Regions from separate parts of the Homo sapiens genome. Here regions 2 and 3 are each linked to region 1. Evidence: fine-mapped expression QTL. A gene starts in region 1. Each other region holds a variant in brackets. All regions are shown on one strand. Distances are between the middles of the regions. Region 1 holds the start of MVD (mevalonate diphosphate decarboxylase). Region 2 overlaps IL17C (interleukin 17C). Region 3 overlaps LOC124900374.

Evidence for each region. PIP is the estimated chance that this variant, and not a neighbour inherited with it, causes the effect.
Region 2: its variant is the best candidate, but not a certain one, in a credible set for the expression of MVD in whole blood (INTERVAL, PIP 0.68).
Region 3: its variant is the best candidate, but not a certain one, in a credible set for the expression of MVD in neutrophils (BLUEPRINT, PIP 0.75).

Annotation. Positions count from the first base shown.
Region 1 is chr16:88,660,488-88,665,705 of GRCh38, forward strand. It overlaps MVD (mevalonate diphosphate decarboxylase), which reads right to left and starts at 2,604. Exons shown (of 10, transcript NM_002461.3): 1 at 2,524-2,604. The coding sequence starts at 2,593. SNAI3-AS1 (SNAI3 antisense RNA 1) reads left to right here and starts at 2,886. Exons shown (of 4, transcript NR_024399.1): 1 at 2,886-2,913. RefSeq lists silencers at 2,349-2,768, 3,109-3,268 and an enhancer at 2,849-2,898.
Region 2 is chr16:88,639,937-88,645,115 of GRCh38, forward strand. IL17C (interleukin 17C) reads left to right here. Exons shown (of 3, transcript NM_013278.4): 3 at 1-532. The coding sequence ends at 136. CYBA (cytochrome b-245 alpha chain) reads right to left here. Exons shown (of 6, transcript NM_000101.4): 6 at 3,353-3,635. The coding sequence ends at 3,417. Among named protein-coding and RNA genes, the nearest start is that of IL17C, 4.0 kb to the left of the region's middle. RefSeq lists an enhancer at 681-1,508. The variant C/T (reference allele first, on the strand shown) is at 2,409.
Region 3 is chr16:88,256,671-88,261,888 of GRCh38, forward strand. It overlaps LOC124900374, which reads right to left. Exons shown (of 2, transcript XM_047435026.1): 2 at 3,477-5,218. It overlaps LOC107984862 (a long non-coding RNA gene), which reads right to left. Exons shown (of 3, transcript NR_171663.1): 3 at 3,884-5,218. It also overlaps a transcript of ZNF469 not described here. Among named protein-coding and RNA genes, the nearest start is that of LINC02182, 65 kb to the left of the region's middle. RefSeq lists enhancers at 2,036-2,782, 3,953-4,818. The variant C/G (reference allele first, on the strand shown) is at 2,464.

The DNA.
Region 1 (5,218 bases):
TACAAAAATTAGCCAGGTGTGGTGGCGCACACCTGTAGTCCCAGCTACTCGAGAGGCTGAGGCAGGAGAATCGGTTGAACCCGGGAAGCGGAGGTTGCAGTGAGCCGAGATCACGCCATTGCACTCCAGCCTGGGTGTCGCAGTGACAGTCTGTCTCAAAAAAATAAATATAAAAGTAATACAAATAAATATAAAAATATAAATATAAAATAAATAAATATAAAAAATAAAAATAAAAGGCCAGACGCGGTGGCTCACACCTGTAATCCCAGCACTTTGGGAGGCTGAGGTGGGCAGATCACGAGGTCAGGAGCTTCAGACCAGCCTGGCTAACACGGTGAAACCCCATCTCTACTAAAAATACAAAAATTAGCCAAGTGTGGTGGCACGTGCATGTAGTCCCAAATACTCAGAAGACTAAGGCAGGAGAATTGCTTGAACCCAGGAGGCGGAGGTTACAGTGAGCCAAGATTGTGCCACTGCACTCCAGCCTGGGTGACAGAGCAAGACTCTGTCTCAAAAAAAAAAAAAAAAAAAAAAAAAATAGCAGAAGAGAAAATCCAGAAATAGACCCACACAAACATGCCCAGCTGATTTTTTTTTTTACAAAAGTGCAAAAGCAATTCAATAGAGGAAGGATAGCCTTTCTGGGCTAACTGGACAACCTTGGATCACAGACTTAAATATAAAAGGCAATCCTGTACAACTTGGAGGAAAGCAGACAATCTTCAGGACATAGGGCTAAGCAAAGAGGTCTTAGACTTGACATCAACATTGATACACTGAACTTCTTTAAAATGAAAAACTGGCTCTTTGTTAAGAGGACAAAAAGATTAGCTAGTTTGGGAGACAATACCTGCAAACCACATGTCCAACAGGAGACTAATATCTAGAATACATATTTTATTTTTTTTCAGTAGAGACGGGGGTTTCACCATGTTGGCCAAGCTGGTCTCAAACTCCTGACCTCAGGTGATCCGCCCACCTCAGCCTCCCCAAGTGCTGGGATTACAGGCTTGAGCCAGCGTGCCCAGCCTAGAATGTGTAATGAACTCTCCAAACTTATAGTAAAAAAGCAAACCATCCAGTTCGAGCGTGGACACAGAATATGAAGAGAGATTTCACCAAGAAAACCCACAGATGGCAAATAAGCACAAAGAAAGATGCTCCACGTCACTGGCCAACAGGGAAACGCGAATGAGGACCACAGCACCCTGCCAGCACATCCCTACCAGGACGCGGCTAAAATGAAAAACAGCAACTCCACCAAATGCTGGTGAGGATGCGGAAAATCTGCATCACCGTAGGGATGCAAAATGGCCCAGCCACTCTGAAAAACAATTAGACAGTTTCTTTAAAAAAAAAAAGTATATATATAATATATATATGTATATATACACACACATACATCTATATAGGTGTATACATATACACACACATATATCTATACAGGTGTATATATATATACACACACACAAACATACATATATACATAGAAAGAGAGAGAGAGACAGAGAGGCATATATATATATCTACCATCTGACCCAGCAACCGCACTCCTGGGCATTTATCCCAGAAGAATGGAAATGTATGTTCACACAAAAACCTGTATACAACATTTTATGGCAGCTTTATTGGTAAGGGAAACACAAAAAAATTAGCCAGTCGTGGTGGCGGCTTCTGGAAAGAAAAGAAAGAAAGAAAGAAAACGTTAGATGCTCTTTGCGGGGTGAGGCCTTGGCTAGAGAGAGGGTGGTCCATGGATTCCACGGACTGGCTCAGCAACAGAGGGGCAAAGCACTGATACAATCCCGGGGCACGTCCACATTCTATGCTGAATGAAATAAGCCAAACTCAAAAGATACTGGGTGGGCCACATAACTGCGATTCCAGTTTCAGAACATTTTGAAATGACGTTACAGAAATGAGTGGTCAGTGGCGGCCAGGTAACCCCGGCGCGAGGGGAGGGGCGGGGCTGTGAACGCACAGGTGCGGACCGGCCTCCCCGGCACGGATGTGGGCCTGCGGGCCCCCCATTACCGCTCCTTGGAGGTTACCGCTGGGAGAAACGGGGCGAGGGAGGGACACAGGGTCTCGGGCTGGGGGAGCAGTGGCGCGATTTCCGCTCACTGCAGCCTCGACCTCCCGGGCTCTGGCCATCCTCCCGCCTCAGCCTCCCGAGTAGCTGGAGCCACAAACGCGCACCACCACGGCGGATTCTTACGATTCATGGGAATCGATGATTGATGATTTCGATAGTTCGGTAATCGCTAATGGGCAGGCGCCGGGCGACCCTGCAGGGGCGGCAGCCGTCGCGGGGGAACGGGTGGCGCCGAGCTTGTCACGCGAAGGAGCGCGCGGCCCCGCCCGACCACCGCCGCGCCCCTCCCTGAGCCTCAGTTTCCCCGTCTGTCGAGGCCCTGGGAGGGCAGGACGGAGCGCGCCGCCGAATCAGCGCGCGACCCCCGCGTACCCGGCCTCGCTCCCGGCCATCCCCGTCCCAGGCCGGCCCGCGGCACTCACAGTACTTGATGACCGCGATGTTGACCGGCGCTGTACAAGTGACTGCCGCCAGCGGCTTCTCCGAGGCCATGGTCCCACCGCGCAGTGACCCCAGCTCCACAGCCACTTACGGCCCGCGATCCCACCCCAGAGGCCTCTGCCTCCTCACGCGCTACCACAGGATTGGCCCGTGCGAGCCCGGCTGCTCGCGCGCCGACCAATCAGCGGCGAGTCGGGCGCACGCATTACCTCTCAGCCAATGGACGGGATCGGACGATGGGTTGCTGACGTAGGTCCGCCCCACCCGCAGGGTGCGCTCGCCAGGCCTGGGGCGTGGTGTTGTCTGCGCAGGCGCCGTGTGCCCAGGCGCCTGGCGTCCGCGTCGGCGATCCGGGGTCTGGGCGCGGCGAGGTGGGCGCTGTTGCCTGTGGGGGCTACCTGTCTGCTGGTGCTGTGCGGGCTTGTGCGGGGCTGTGCGGCAGCTGTGTGGGGCCCGTGAGGAGCTGTGCGGGGGGCTGTGCGAAGGGCTGTGTGAGGCGCTGTGCTGGGGGCTGTGCGGAGACCTTGAGGCGCTGTGCGGGGTCCGTGAGGCTCTGTGTGGGGCGCCGTGTGGGAGACTCTGCGGGGGCCGTAAAGGGTCCGTGAGGCGCTGTGTGCGGGTTGTGAGGCGCTGTGCGGGGACCATGAAGGGGCCGTGGGGCGCTGTGCGGGTGCCGTGGGGCGCTGTGTGGGAGGGAGGCTGTGCGGGGCCGTGGGACGGTGTGCGGGGCTGAGGGGAGGGCGGGTCGCGCTGTGCCCTCCTTGAAGCTCTTGGACGGCCCCGCTGGGTATGGGGGTGCACACAGGCCCGAGGGCAGGCGCTGGAGGATGTATCCCGGGATCCACTCTTAACCCGGCAGCCGAAGGCACCCTGTCCCGCCGCCCACAGCCTTCTCCGCGCCATGTCCTGGGCCAGGATCCCCCGCCACGGGGCTCACACGAAAGACCCCGGGGCGGGGAAGCCCCGCAGCCCGGAGCTGGGTCCAACCTGCATTAAGGTGGGCGTCTCAAATACCCCCTGTAAGGCCCTGTAGGAGCAAAGCCTTGGACTGGGTTGCGGCGCTTGTGTGTGCATTGACTTCTCCTGTGAAACGTACAGGAACATTTAAGCGTGCCGTTCCCTGCCATTCATTCCAATCATGTGCCACGCCCCCACTATTTCTAGAGTTTTCTCACCCCAAACAGAAACTCTGTCCCCTTAAAACAATGACTTCCCATTTTCCCCTTCCCCTTTTAAAATTTTACCTTTAGTTTTTAAATAGCTCAGATTGGCTGGGCATGGTGGCTCACACCTGTAATCCCAGCACTTTGGGAGGCCGAGGTGGGCGGATCACGAGGTCAGGAGTTTGAGACCAGCCTGGCCAACATGGTGAAACCCTGTCTCTACTAAAAATACAATAATTAGGTGGGCGTGTGGTGCACGCCTGTAATCCCAGCTACTGGGGAGGCTGAGGCAGGACAATTGCTTGAACTCAGGAGGCGGAAGTTGCAGTGAGCCGAGATGGTGCTGCTGTACTCCAGCCAGGGTGACAGAGCAAGACTCCATCTCAAAAAAAAAAAAAAAAAAAAAAAAAACTCAGATTTCGGAAAATAGGGGAGTATGCAGTGTGAAGTGTCCACTCTGCCTAGCCACCTACTTCTATTACCAGAACCATCATACTTATAAATTCTTTATTTTTTTCCAGAAATAGAAAAAAAGTCTGTTTTTTTTCTCACTCTGTTGCTCAGGCTGGAGGGCAGTGGTACGATCAAAGCTCCATGCAGCCTCGACCTCCTGGCTCAAGGGATCTTCCCACCTCAGTTTCCTCAGTAGTTGGGACTACAGGTACACACCACCATGCCCGGCTAATTTTTTTCTTAATTTTTTTGTAGAGATGTGGGGGGGTCTTGCTATGTTGCCCAGGCTGATTTGAAGTCCTGGCCTCAGGGAACCCTCCCATCTCAGTCTTCCAAAGTACTGGGATTAGGTGTGAGCCACTCCACCTGGCCTGTCAATTCTTTGTGTATTTTTTCATTGACGTGCATAGTACAAGCACATAGCGTGTTCTCCCACCTTGCTTTTTCTACGTACCTTCTTCTTAGAGATCATCCCAATTTAGTAAAAAGCTTCCTTGTTTGTTGTCTAAATATACCTGGTCTGTCCTAGTTGGGTTGTTACTATAAACAGTGCTTTCCTACGTTGTTTGTGCACATGTATTTCTGCAGGAGAAATTCCTGGAAGTGGAATTGCTGGGCCAAGTGGGATGTGCCTGAGTACTTTTGATAGCTGTTGGCAAGTCGCCCTTTGTGGAAGTCAATTGATTACTCAGGTCTCTCTGCGGAAGTCTGAGAGTGCCTGCATGCCTTCACCAGCACAGTGGGTCACCTGCCAGAGTGACATGTGTTGTCTCACTGTTTTCAATTTGCATTTCAGATGGTGGTTATTTTTAATTTCTCTTGCAATCACAGCTGCTTTTCCATTTTATGCAAAGCCACTAAATCCTATTGAAGAGCTGATGTGGACTGTCTCGGCCTATAGTCAGGGTGTATTCCCTCAGCTACTCAGAGAGAGTGGGGCTTCCAGTCACCTCCTTCCTTCTGCCACGGCTGTGATGAAAAAGAAGACACAGGCTTGGTGCTTTGGGAGGCCAAGGAGGGCAGATTGTTTAAGTCCAGTAGAAAAAAAAACAATTTATTT
Region 2 (5,179 bases), 21 kb before region 1:
GAGCCTGCTGGTGCTGCGCCGCCGGCCCTGCTCCCGCGACGGCTCGGGGCTCCCCACACCTGGGGCCTTTGCCTTCCACACCGAGTTCATCCACGTCCCCGTCGGCTGCACCTGCGTGCTGCCCCGTTCAGTGTGACCGCCGAGGCCGTGGGGCCCCTAGACTGGACACGTGTGCTCCCCAGAGGGCACCCCCTATTTATGTGTATTTATTGTTATTTATATGCCTCCCCCAACACTACCCTTGGGGTCTGGGCATTCCCCGTGTCTGGAGGACAGCCCCCCACTGTTCTCCTCATCTCCAGCCTCAGTAGTTGGGGGTAGAAGGAGCTCAGCACCTCTTCCAGCCCTTAAAGCTGCAGAAAAGGTGTCACACGGCTGCCTGTACCTTGGCTCCCTGTCCTGCTCCCGGCTTCCCTTACCCTATCACTGGCCTCAGGCCCCCGCAGGCTGCCTCTTCCCAACCTCCTTGGAAGTACCCCTGTTTCTTAAACAATTATTTAAGTGTACGTGTATTATTAAACTGATGAACACATCCCCAGAGGCCAACATTCAATGCGACATTCTCCCGTTCAGCCCTGGTCCAGGCCAGCCATGGACCCAATTCTGGGGTGTCCTTCCAGAAAGGTCTACGCAGCCGCGAGCAGTGCATGCAGGTGGGACTGAGCTGTAGCACGGGGGGGTCACAGGTGTCCCTGCTCTGCCCACACAGTGTCTCCCCTGAGGACACCCCTGGGAACAGGAACCAGCCTCCTTCCTCAAGCAGTGCCTTGAGCCCTATGCTTTGTAATGATGTGAGCGCCTAGGGGCACCCTCTCGGCCCCCAAGGCAAGTCTCTGAGGATGAACTGCAGGGCTGTCGGCTCAAGGCAGGGCCCCCAGCCTTCGTGGTTCGGATCAACATCCAAGGCCAAGCGCCCTCCCTGATGGTGAACTAGCCACGCTTCGGGACCCAGGCTCTGTTGGAGATTTTAGTTAAGGGGCCCCGGGGGGAGCAGCCCCAGTCGTGGAAAGGGGGCCCAGGCCTGTGACAGTCTCAGGGTCTCAGTCTCTAGGCCCCCGGCCCCAAGGGCTGACATTGCCATGGGGCTGCTGGGCAGTTGTTAGCCCCTCCCCTGCCTGGCCCCCTGGCTCACCCACCTACTGCGTCCAGGTGCCTGGAGATGGGGGTGGGGGTGCTGCACAGAAGAACAAGGACTCCACTCAGACTCCCAAAGCAAGAGGCCTCAGGGAAGACTTCCTGGAGGTGGTGGCCCTTGTCCAGGAGATGGAATTTTCATTCAACACATTTATTGAGTTTCTTTTCTTTCTTGAAAAAGGGTCTCGCTCTGTTGCCCAGGCTGGAGTGCAGTGTGGTATGACTTCAGCTCACTGCCACCCCCACCTTCTGAGTTCAAGCGATCCTCCCAGCTCAGCTTCCCAGTACAGGCGTGCACCACCACACCCAACTCATATTTGTATTTTTAGTGGAGGCGGGGTTTCGCCATGTTGGCCAGGTTGGTCTCGAACTCCTGAGCTCAAGTGATCCTCCCACCTCGGCCTCCCAGAGTGCTGGGATTACAGGCGTGAGCCACCGCACCCAGCCATATGAGTTTCTACTAAGCACCTGGCACTGGGAACAGGCCGAGAACAAAATGGTGAAAACCCTTCCTGCCTCCACGGTGACTAATGAAACAAGTGGTGTGTAGTCTGTGAGTGAGTCCAGGACAGAGGCTCTGGGGGAGGGGCTGCAGTTCTTTTTTTTTTTTTTGAGGAGTCTCGCTCTGGCCCAGGCTGGAGTGCAATGGTGCGATCTCGGCTCACTGCAAGCTCCGCCTCCCGGGTTCACACCATTCTCCTGCCTCAGCCTCCTGAGTAGCTGGGACTACAGGCGCCCGCCACCACGCCCGGCTAATTTTTTGTATTTTTAGTAGAGACGGGGTTTCACCGTGTTAGCCAGGATGGTCTCGATCTCCTGACCTCATGATCTGCCCGCCTCGGCCTCCCAAAGTGCTGGGATTACAGGCGTGAGCCACCGCGCCCGGCCAAGGGGCTGCAGTTCTAAGCAGAGGGTCAGGGAGGCCTCGAAGACCTGAAGGGGAGGAGGAAGGAGCCAGGCAGCCATGCAGGGAACAGCTCCAGGCAGCAGGAAGAGCCCATGCAAAGGCCCTGAGAAGACACATGCTGCGTGTGTCCAAGGGTCAGAGAGTGGCCTGCGTGGCTGATGCCAGGTGAGAGGGGGACCGCAGGGGCAGGGCAGGGCGCTGGGGGTGCAGATCATGTCTGCCCTGGGGCCATCAGAAGCTTGTGGCTGTCACTGGAGGTAGCTGAGCCTGTGGGTTCTGAGCCTGCGGATTCTGAGCCGGAGGCACTGGGGTGAGGCTTTGGGTTTCAATGGCAGCATCAGGATGGTTTCAGGGGATGAGGGCAGAG[C/T]GGGAGGCGGCAGGTGGCCTGGGTGGGGATGGCCCATGTAGCTGGGGTCTGGATTTGGGCCAGGATTGGATGTGGGGTGTGGGGGTTTCAAGGGTGACCTGAAGCTTGGTGACCTGGGGGGACGGCTGAGATGAGGCTGGATTGAGACGTCTGTATGGTGCCGAGTGTTGGCTGGTGGGGGGTGGATTCTGAAGGCCCCCAGGAACAGAGGACCCTGGCTCTGAAGTGTGAGTTGCTGGGAGAGCAGGTGGACAAGCAGCAGGCAAGGGCTTCTCCGGCCTCAGGGGAGTGGGTGCCTTGGCGAGAGCCCAAAGGTGGGGGACGTGGCTGACGCCGGGCAAAGCTTTGGGGGCACCGGGCTGGGGTGGTGGTGAGGACCTGTGGGCAGGTGTGTGTGCAGCCAGCCACAGCCTCCGCACAAGTGAGGGGAAGGGGTGGCCAGAAGCCCCTGCAACTTGGCCTGAGCGTCCTGGGCAGCTGGGGGGCCCCCCAGCATCAGTGTGGGGGCAAACAAGGCCACATCCGCCACCAGCTTCACCCCAGCTTCTACGGAAAAGAGGCGCAGGGTAGAGGCTCACCACGTGGCTCCGACCCTGTTCCCTTTTCACTTAACGCCAGCGGCCTCCTCTGGAATCCAAGCCCCTTAGGGAGGCGTTAGGTGTGGAGGGCCTGCAGGGCCTGCAGGAGCTGTCAAGGGAGGACTCTGCTGCCTCCTCCAGGCCCGGGAGGACCTTTCTAGGGAGGCACACACCTGGAATCCAGGTACTATATTTCGTGGAATATACGGTACCCGGGATTTCGTGTGCTGCTGAGAAGGAAGGCGATGCTGATGTTAATGAAACTGGAATGCGGCCCGGCTGGCAGGAAACGGGGTGCCTGCCCAGGCCTCGGGAACCATCGCTACCCCAGCCCCGCCCACCGGCCCCAGGCAGAGGCTCACGCGCTCCCGGCTTCGCTGCATTTATTGCAGGTGGGTGCACCTGGCGGGAGGGCAGGTCCGGGGCGAGGTCACACGACCTCGTCGGTCACCGGGATGGGGTTGACCTGGGGACCTCCCGGGGGTCCCCCCGCCGCCACCGCAGCCTCCTCCTCGCTGGGCTTCTTGCGGGCCTCGGCCGGGGGCCGCGGCGGGGGGTTGCTGGGCGGCTGCTTGATGGTGCCTCCGATCTGCGGCCGCTCCCGGGGCTTGGGCTCGATGGGCGTCCACTGCTCGCCACGCACAGCCGCCTGCGGGGCACTGAAGGGTTGAGCCGCGCCCCAGCGCCCGCCCTCCCTCCCTCCCTCCCTCCCCGGAGGCCCACCCCGCTAGGGGCCCTGGGACAGGCTCAAGTCTGAATCCCACGCAGGATGGTGTGACTGCCACTCAGAGAGGTTAAGTGACGCGCCCGAGGCCACACAGCCAGGACCTGGGTCGGCCTGACACCAGCCCAAGCTATTTCTTCATGCCAGGAGTGGGGCCCGAACCCCTGGGCTTCTGGAAGATCCCGTGGTGGACACTCCCAGATGCAAATTCTAGTACTCAAATTCTCCTCTCAAGGTGCCAAGGGCAGGGAAGGCAGGGAGGCAGGCCCGAGGTCCAGCAGGAGGGGTGGCCCAGGAGAGTAGCAGGCCCTGCTCCGTCTGGTGGGCGCCATTCACCCACGCTGGCCGGCAGCCCCCCAAGGGTGCCCAGGCATTTCTGCACATGGGGGTGGTGGGGGGAGAGCTTGAAGACCACGGGATTCCACTGGCTTTTACTAAAAATACAGACTCCTGGGCCCATGCCCGGAGGTTCCACTGCAACAGGTCAAGTGGACCTGGGAGTGTGTGCTTTTCATCTTCTATCCCATAATATCTGGTGGAAAAATATGTCACATCATATACGTCATGAACAGAAAGAGAAACTGGACATGTGTGATCCTACCTGACTCCAAAACGGAAACATTCCATTCTGAAAAGCAAAACTAGAAGGCTGATAGAAGAAAAGGCAGGAACGTGAAGGCAGGACCCAGGGCCAGGGAAAGGTGTTTTCACAAAGCACAGACCATAGAGCAGGTGAACAGGGAAACCTCTGCTCTTCCGTGCAGTGAAGGACTCCACGCGCCAAGTTAACAGACCCTCACCAGAAAGCATGAAGGCATCCCCAGTGTTTAAAGGTTACAAAGGCTAAATAGCTAAAATATATGTGGACTTCCTGCAACTTAAGAAAAAGACAATCAGGCCGGGCGCGGTGGCTCACGCCTGTAATCCCAGCACTTTGGGAGGCCGAGGCGGGCGGATCACAAGGTCAAGGAGATCCAGACCATCCTGGCTAACGCGGTGAAACCCCGTCTCTACTAAAAATACCAAAAATTAGCCAGGCATGGTGGCACGTGCCTGTAGTCCCAGCTACTCGGGAGGCTGAGGCAGGAGAATTGCTTGAACCCAGGAGGCGAAGGTTGCAGTGAGCCGAGATCACGCCACTGCACTCCAGCCTGGGCGATGGCGCGAGACTCCATCTCAAAAAAAAAAGAAGAAAAAGAAAAATACAAAAACCACAATAGAAAAATGGGCAAAGGATTTGAACAGGCAACTCAAGGGAGAAGAAACTCCAACAGCTCAAATCCACAGTCAGAGAAGGGCGAGTCCAAGCTCCACACGGCCAGCTCGTGCTGTGAAACTGGCAAGCGTGGGAGAAAGCCTAGTGCATGGTGGGAGAGATGGGGCCACATGGCTGGTGGTGGGTTGTCTGCTGAGGAGCAGCTGAGCCCGGCAGGGTGAACGGTGCAGAGGCTGATGCCTGACCCAGCAAT
Region 3 (5,218 bases), 400 kb before region 1:
AGCAATGAGTGAGAGTTCCTGTTGCTCCACATCCTCGCCCAGCATTTGGTGTTGTCAGAGTTCTGGGTTTTAGCCACGCTGTTAGGTGAGAGGCGATATCTTATGCTTATTTTAATTTGCATTTCCCTGATGACATGTGTGGTGAGGAGCCTCTTTTCTTTCTTCCTTCCTTCCTTTCTTCCTTCCTTTTTCCTTCCTTTCTTTCTTTTCTTTTCTTTTCTTTCCTTCTTTCTTTCTTTCTTTCTTTCTTTCTTTCTTTCTTTCTTTCTTTCTTTCTTTCTTTTCTTTTCTTTCGTTGATGGAGTTTCACTCTTGTTGCCCATGCTGGACTGCAGTGGCACAATCTCAGCCCACTGCAACCTCCGCCTCCTAGGTTCAAGTGATTCTCCTGCCTCAGCCTCCTGAGTAGCTGGGATTACAGGCATGCACCACCATACCCCACTAATTTTTTTTTTTTTTTTTTTTGCATTTTTAGTAGAGAAAGGGTTTTGCCATGTTGGCCAGGCTGGTCTCCAACTCCTGACCTCAGGTGATCTGCCTGCCTTGGCATCCCAAAGTGCTGGGATTACGGGCGTGAGCCACCGTGCCCAGCCGGGAGCATCTTTTCATATGCTTATTTGCCATCTGTGTATCTTCTTTGGTGAGGCGTCATTTAAGATCTTTGGCCCACTTTTTAAATTGGGTTGTTTATTTTCAAATTATTGAGTTTTAGGAATTCTTTGTATATTTTGGATAACAAGCCTCTCTTCTCAGATATTTCCATCAAAAATATTTTCTCCCAGTCTGTGGCTTGTCTTTTCATTTTTTGGCAGCATCTTTCACAGAGCAGAAGTTTTCGTTTTAATGAAGTCCAGCTTATCAATTATTTCTTTCCTGGATCCTGCCTTTGGTGCTGGATCTAAAAAGTCATTGCCAAACCCTAGGTCATCTAGATCTTCTTTTATGTTATCTTCTAGGAGTTTTATAGTTTTTCATTTTTCATTTAGGCCTGGGATCCATTTTGAGTTATTTCTTTGTGAAGGTCCATGTCTAGATTCATTGTTTGCAAGTGCTCTTTTTATGTGCATTGATGAGGTTTGGGAAGGTCAGTAACTTGGACAAAGCACACACCCTGGTCAGCAAAGGAACCCCAGACCATGCTTCTATCCATAGGGCTGAGCTGGGGCACAGCTTTGTGGAAACTGAGTTATGTATGAGACCCCACAAAAGGCTTAGAATCACTTCCCTTTTCCCCTCTCACTTCCTTGGCTCCAGAATGAGAATAGAATGTGCGTCCAGAAGCTCCTTTCAGTCTGCATCCTCTGACCCGTGTGCCCACATGCTGCAAGGGCTCTGATGCCCTCTATGAAGTACAAGGAAACACTTATAAAATAGCTAAATGTGCAGTTTTGCCCCAACCAGAGGTGATTGCAATAGAACCTGGTACAGACCAGTAGAAGCAGGCATTGACAATTCAAAGAAGAAATAATAGACAAACATAACAGAGAAAGAAACATAATTGAGAAACAGAAAAATTATGGGAGACACATAACAGAGAAAGGGTGTGTGTGTGTGTGTGTTAGGGAACAGCCACTATGTTCTAACTTTGGGGAAACATCATTAAGATCTCTGAATTACTGTGTCACAGAGGAAGGGATTTCAAGACCACCTGCTGACATTTGAGGATTTTGCTCAAGGAAGGTTCCTGGAAGGGAGGGGCCACTCCCATGAGACAGCACAGCTCAGCAGAGCTGAATGGCTCACCCCCCCACCCCCCCAGCTTACCCCCTACATTGCCGATGGCCTTCTCTGCCAGGGATAGGGGCCCTGGAGCCATCGGCTAAAGGAGGCCCAGCACAAAAGGTGCCCAAGTTTATTGAGGGTTCTGGGCTAGAAGTTTAAGGCAGTAATATTGGAGAGAACCTTCTTCGTGGTGACTCTAGCTTTGGGGACGCTAAGCATGGTAGCATTTGGCACAGACCCATGAGTTTAGACACTTGGAGATTTGAGCGTTTGGGTGAGGGTGACGATGATGGTGGTGGTGGTCCTTGTGGTTCTGATGAACTCGGATGACATTTTAGAGGGTTTGCAGCAATGCAGAAAACGCAGCCCCAGCCTCATGGAACTTGCGTTCTGGCAGTGGGAGGTGTACAAACAGCATCCCTCACAGTAATCCTTCTACACAGATGTTATGCTTATTCTACACTCAAGGAACCGAAGCTCAGAGATGTCCACAGCTTGCCCAACCCACACAGCAGGTGGTGGTGAGCCTGGATTTGAACTGCCTTGTCCGTGGGGTGGTAGAGATTTGAGCTGAGAAGACACACGTGCCTCACCAAAACTCGTGGGAGTATTTTGTTCTCAGGGGTGACTGAGCACGCCATTTCCTCTTGACCCAGCTTAGCTCAACCCTTCAAAGGACCAGAGAATGGTATGTGTGTCTCTTTCTCTTTAAGCAAACTTTCCTTAGGGGAAAAGAAAAAG[C/G]CATGCCACAAGGCAGAAGAAAGTCGCAGGAATGAGGCCGTGCGGCCAGGCCTCGCGGCCACCCACCGGCTTGTGAGTGGGAAGCAGTGGGATTTCCTCCCGGGCAAGCCGACCCACCCCCCGCCCCCCCGAAGCGGGCCAGAGAGGTGTCCTCGGTGGGTCAGGAAGGGTCGACGCCCCCTCCTTCCCTCAGCCGCATCCCGCGCCCCCATCCCTCTGCCCGCCAGATTCTGCGGAGTCTGCGAAACAAAACCGCCGTTGTTTCCAGCCGGGCTGCTCAGGAAAAACAACAGGTTTTTCCACTTTGGGGCCTTTGTAGATGTGGATGCCCCGCATGCTTCTCCTCCGCTGCAGAAGGCTGTGGTCTTCTGTTCATTTCGTCAGGAAATACTCTGGGAACTCTCCAGGGCCACGGCAGCTGGGGGCCTGTCCAGCCTCCAAACTTAGGGGTTCCCTGGGACCCCAGAATCCCTATGAGCCCCAGGATCTCCCAGCCTGACAGCCACCCCCAGGCACCGCGCTCTTTCTCCTCCCAAGATGCCTCTCCTCTGCGTCTCACCCCCACCTGCACTCACACCAATGTCCCAGGGTCTCCACACACCGTGGCCCCCAAGCGGCCTCCCCAAAGTCCAGGCGCTGATCCCTCCCTCCAGGGAGAGACCCCTGACCCTGGGGTGGGGGGCTGCAGGCTCCGCCGAAGACCCTCCTGGACATCTGAGCAGCAGAGCTGATGTCTTACTCCTAGGACACAAGCCCCATCCGGACATTTACAGATTTACATATTTTTTCTGTACATCTAAAACTGTTTTAGAATAAAAAGATAAAAAGTCACTTTTTTTTTGTTTTTTTGTTTTTTTGTTTCGAGACAGAGTCTCACTCTGTCACCCAGGCTGGAGTGCAGTGGTAAGATCTTGGCTCACTGAAACCTCCGCCTCCCGGGTTCACGTGATTTTCCTGCCTCAGCCTCCTGAGTGGCTGGGATTACAGGCGCACACCACCACGCCCTGCTAGTGTTTTTTTTTTTTTTTGTATTTTAGTAGAGACAGGGTTTTACCATATTGGTCAGGCTGGTCTCACACTCCTGACCTCAAATGATCCTCCCACCTCGGCCTCCCGAAGTGCTGGGTTGACAGGCGCGAGCCACCGTGCCCAGCCAAAAAGTCGCTTTAAAAAGCATTCGGCTGAATGAGGGAACGAGTGTTTCCACAATACGACACGATGTCAGGCTCAGCCTAAGGCCTTGGACTGAGCAGGTTTCAATGAGCTCTGGGCCCCTGGCCACGGTTGCATCTCCGGCCGTCAGTCCTAAGCCTCGCTCTGGGGACTGTCTAGAGTGGTAGGTGCTGGTCTGGGTGCACACACGTGTCCCTTGTGTTTGCTGCTGGGAGGACGCCGCTCTCACAAATTTTGAGAAATTGGCTGGGTTTAGGAGAGTGGAGGGGCTTTACTCTTTTACAAAACTGCTTGATCTTTGACGTTCTTCTCAATCATGCTCGCGGCTCCGTGTTGACTAGGATATAGAGCTAAATGCCGTCATTTCTTTTCTCCATGATCAAATCTCAAACCCATCTGTACTGGCCCCAGAGATATCAGATCCTAATCCCTGGGACCTGTGAATGCTACTTTACACAGAAAAAAAGGGTCTCTGCAGATGTGATTGAACTGAGGATCTTGAGATGGAAAGATTGTTCTGAACCATGGTGGGGCGGCGTCTGATGGCATCAGGAGGTCCCGATAAGAGGGAACAGAAAGAAGTTTAAGACACGGAGAAAAGGAGGAGGCTGCGTGGCCACGGACGCAGACTCTGGTGTGATGCAGCCATGACCAAAACGCCTGCAGCCCCAGGAAGACAGAAACACGGCGGAGAGGATCAAGTGAAAATGGGGAGCCCGGGCCAGCGTCTGGGGGTCTTGGTGCCTGACGGGGGCTTCCTGGTTCTAACAGCTGGGATGCGGTCCGGAGAGGCTCGAGCACGCTGCCACTATCCCAGGAGGCAATCAGCGATCTCACGCATGGTGGGCGGGACACAGGTGGGCCCTTCTGGGGCCTCAGCTGCTGATGCGGGTGGGAGAGGAAGGAGCCCGCATTTGAGGGAGGCAAAGTGTGCAGAGAGAAACACTTTGAGGTTCCTTTTCCTTGTGAGAAAAGCCCTGGGTGCCACCGCCCCTCACACGGCACCACCTGCCCCTCCCTGTGGCAGAGGCTGTCCCCATTCCATTTTGGGCTGGGGGAGGCTTGTGGTCCAAGGCTAAGGGGTAAGTACATGTGCCGCAGCCCTGGAATGCACAGTAGGTCATGCCCCCCGCTGAGGAATTGCCAGAGGCGGGGGACTTGTCTGATGTCACACCTGGCCTCACCCAGTTCTGCTGACGGATGGGCAGCCACAGGACCCGAAGTCCTGAAGCTTTGGGAAGTATGAGCCTGTCCTCTAGAAGGGCAGGTCCTGGCCTTTGTAAAGAGCTCATTTTGGTGGATTGAGAACCTGGAGAAGTGAAATTAATGAGCTGAAAGTGACACCTGCCTTTGACACAGAAAGTCCACCAGCCGCTCCTCCCCCAGCCCTACCACAGGGCAAGTTCTTGGCCCTGTGCAGGTCTGTCTCGGGTGGGGGCTGCCTCGGTTAACTCCCCTTCCCGTGGCTGTGGGGAGAGGCAGGGAGCAGCTGTAGAAACCAAGAATTCCGTCTGGATCTTCAGGGTGAAGGCTCTTTGCTGGCTGTTCCCTGCTGGTGGCACAGAGGGCTTCTGTGGATGAG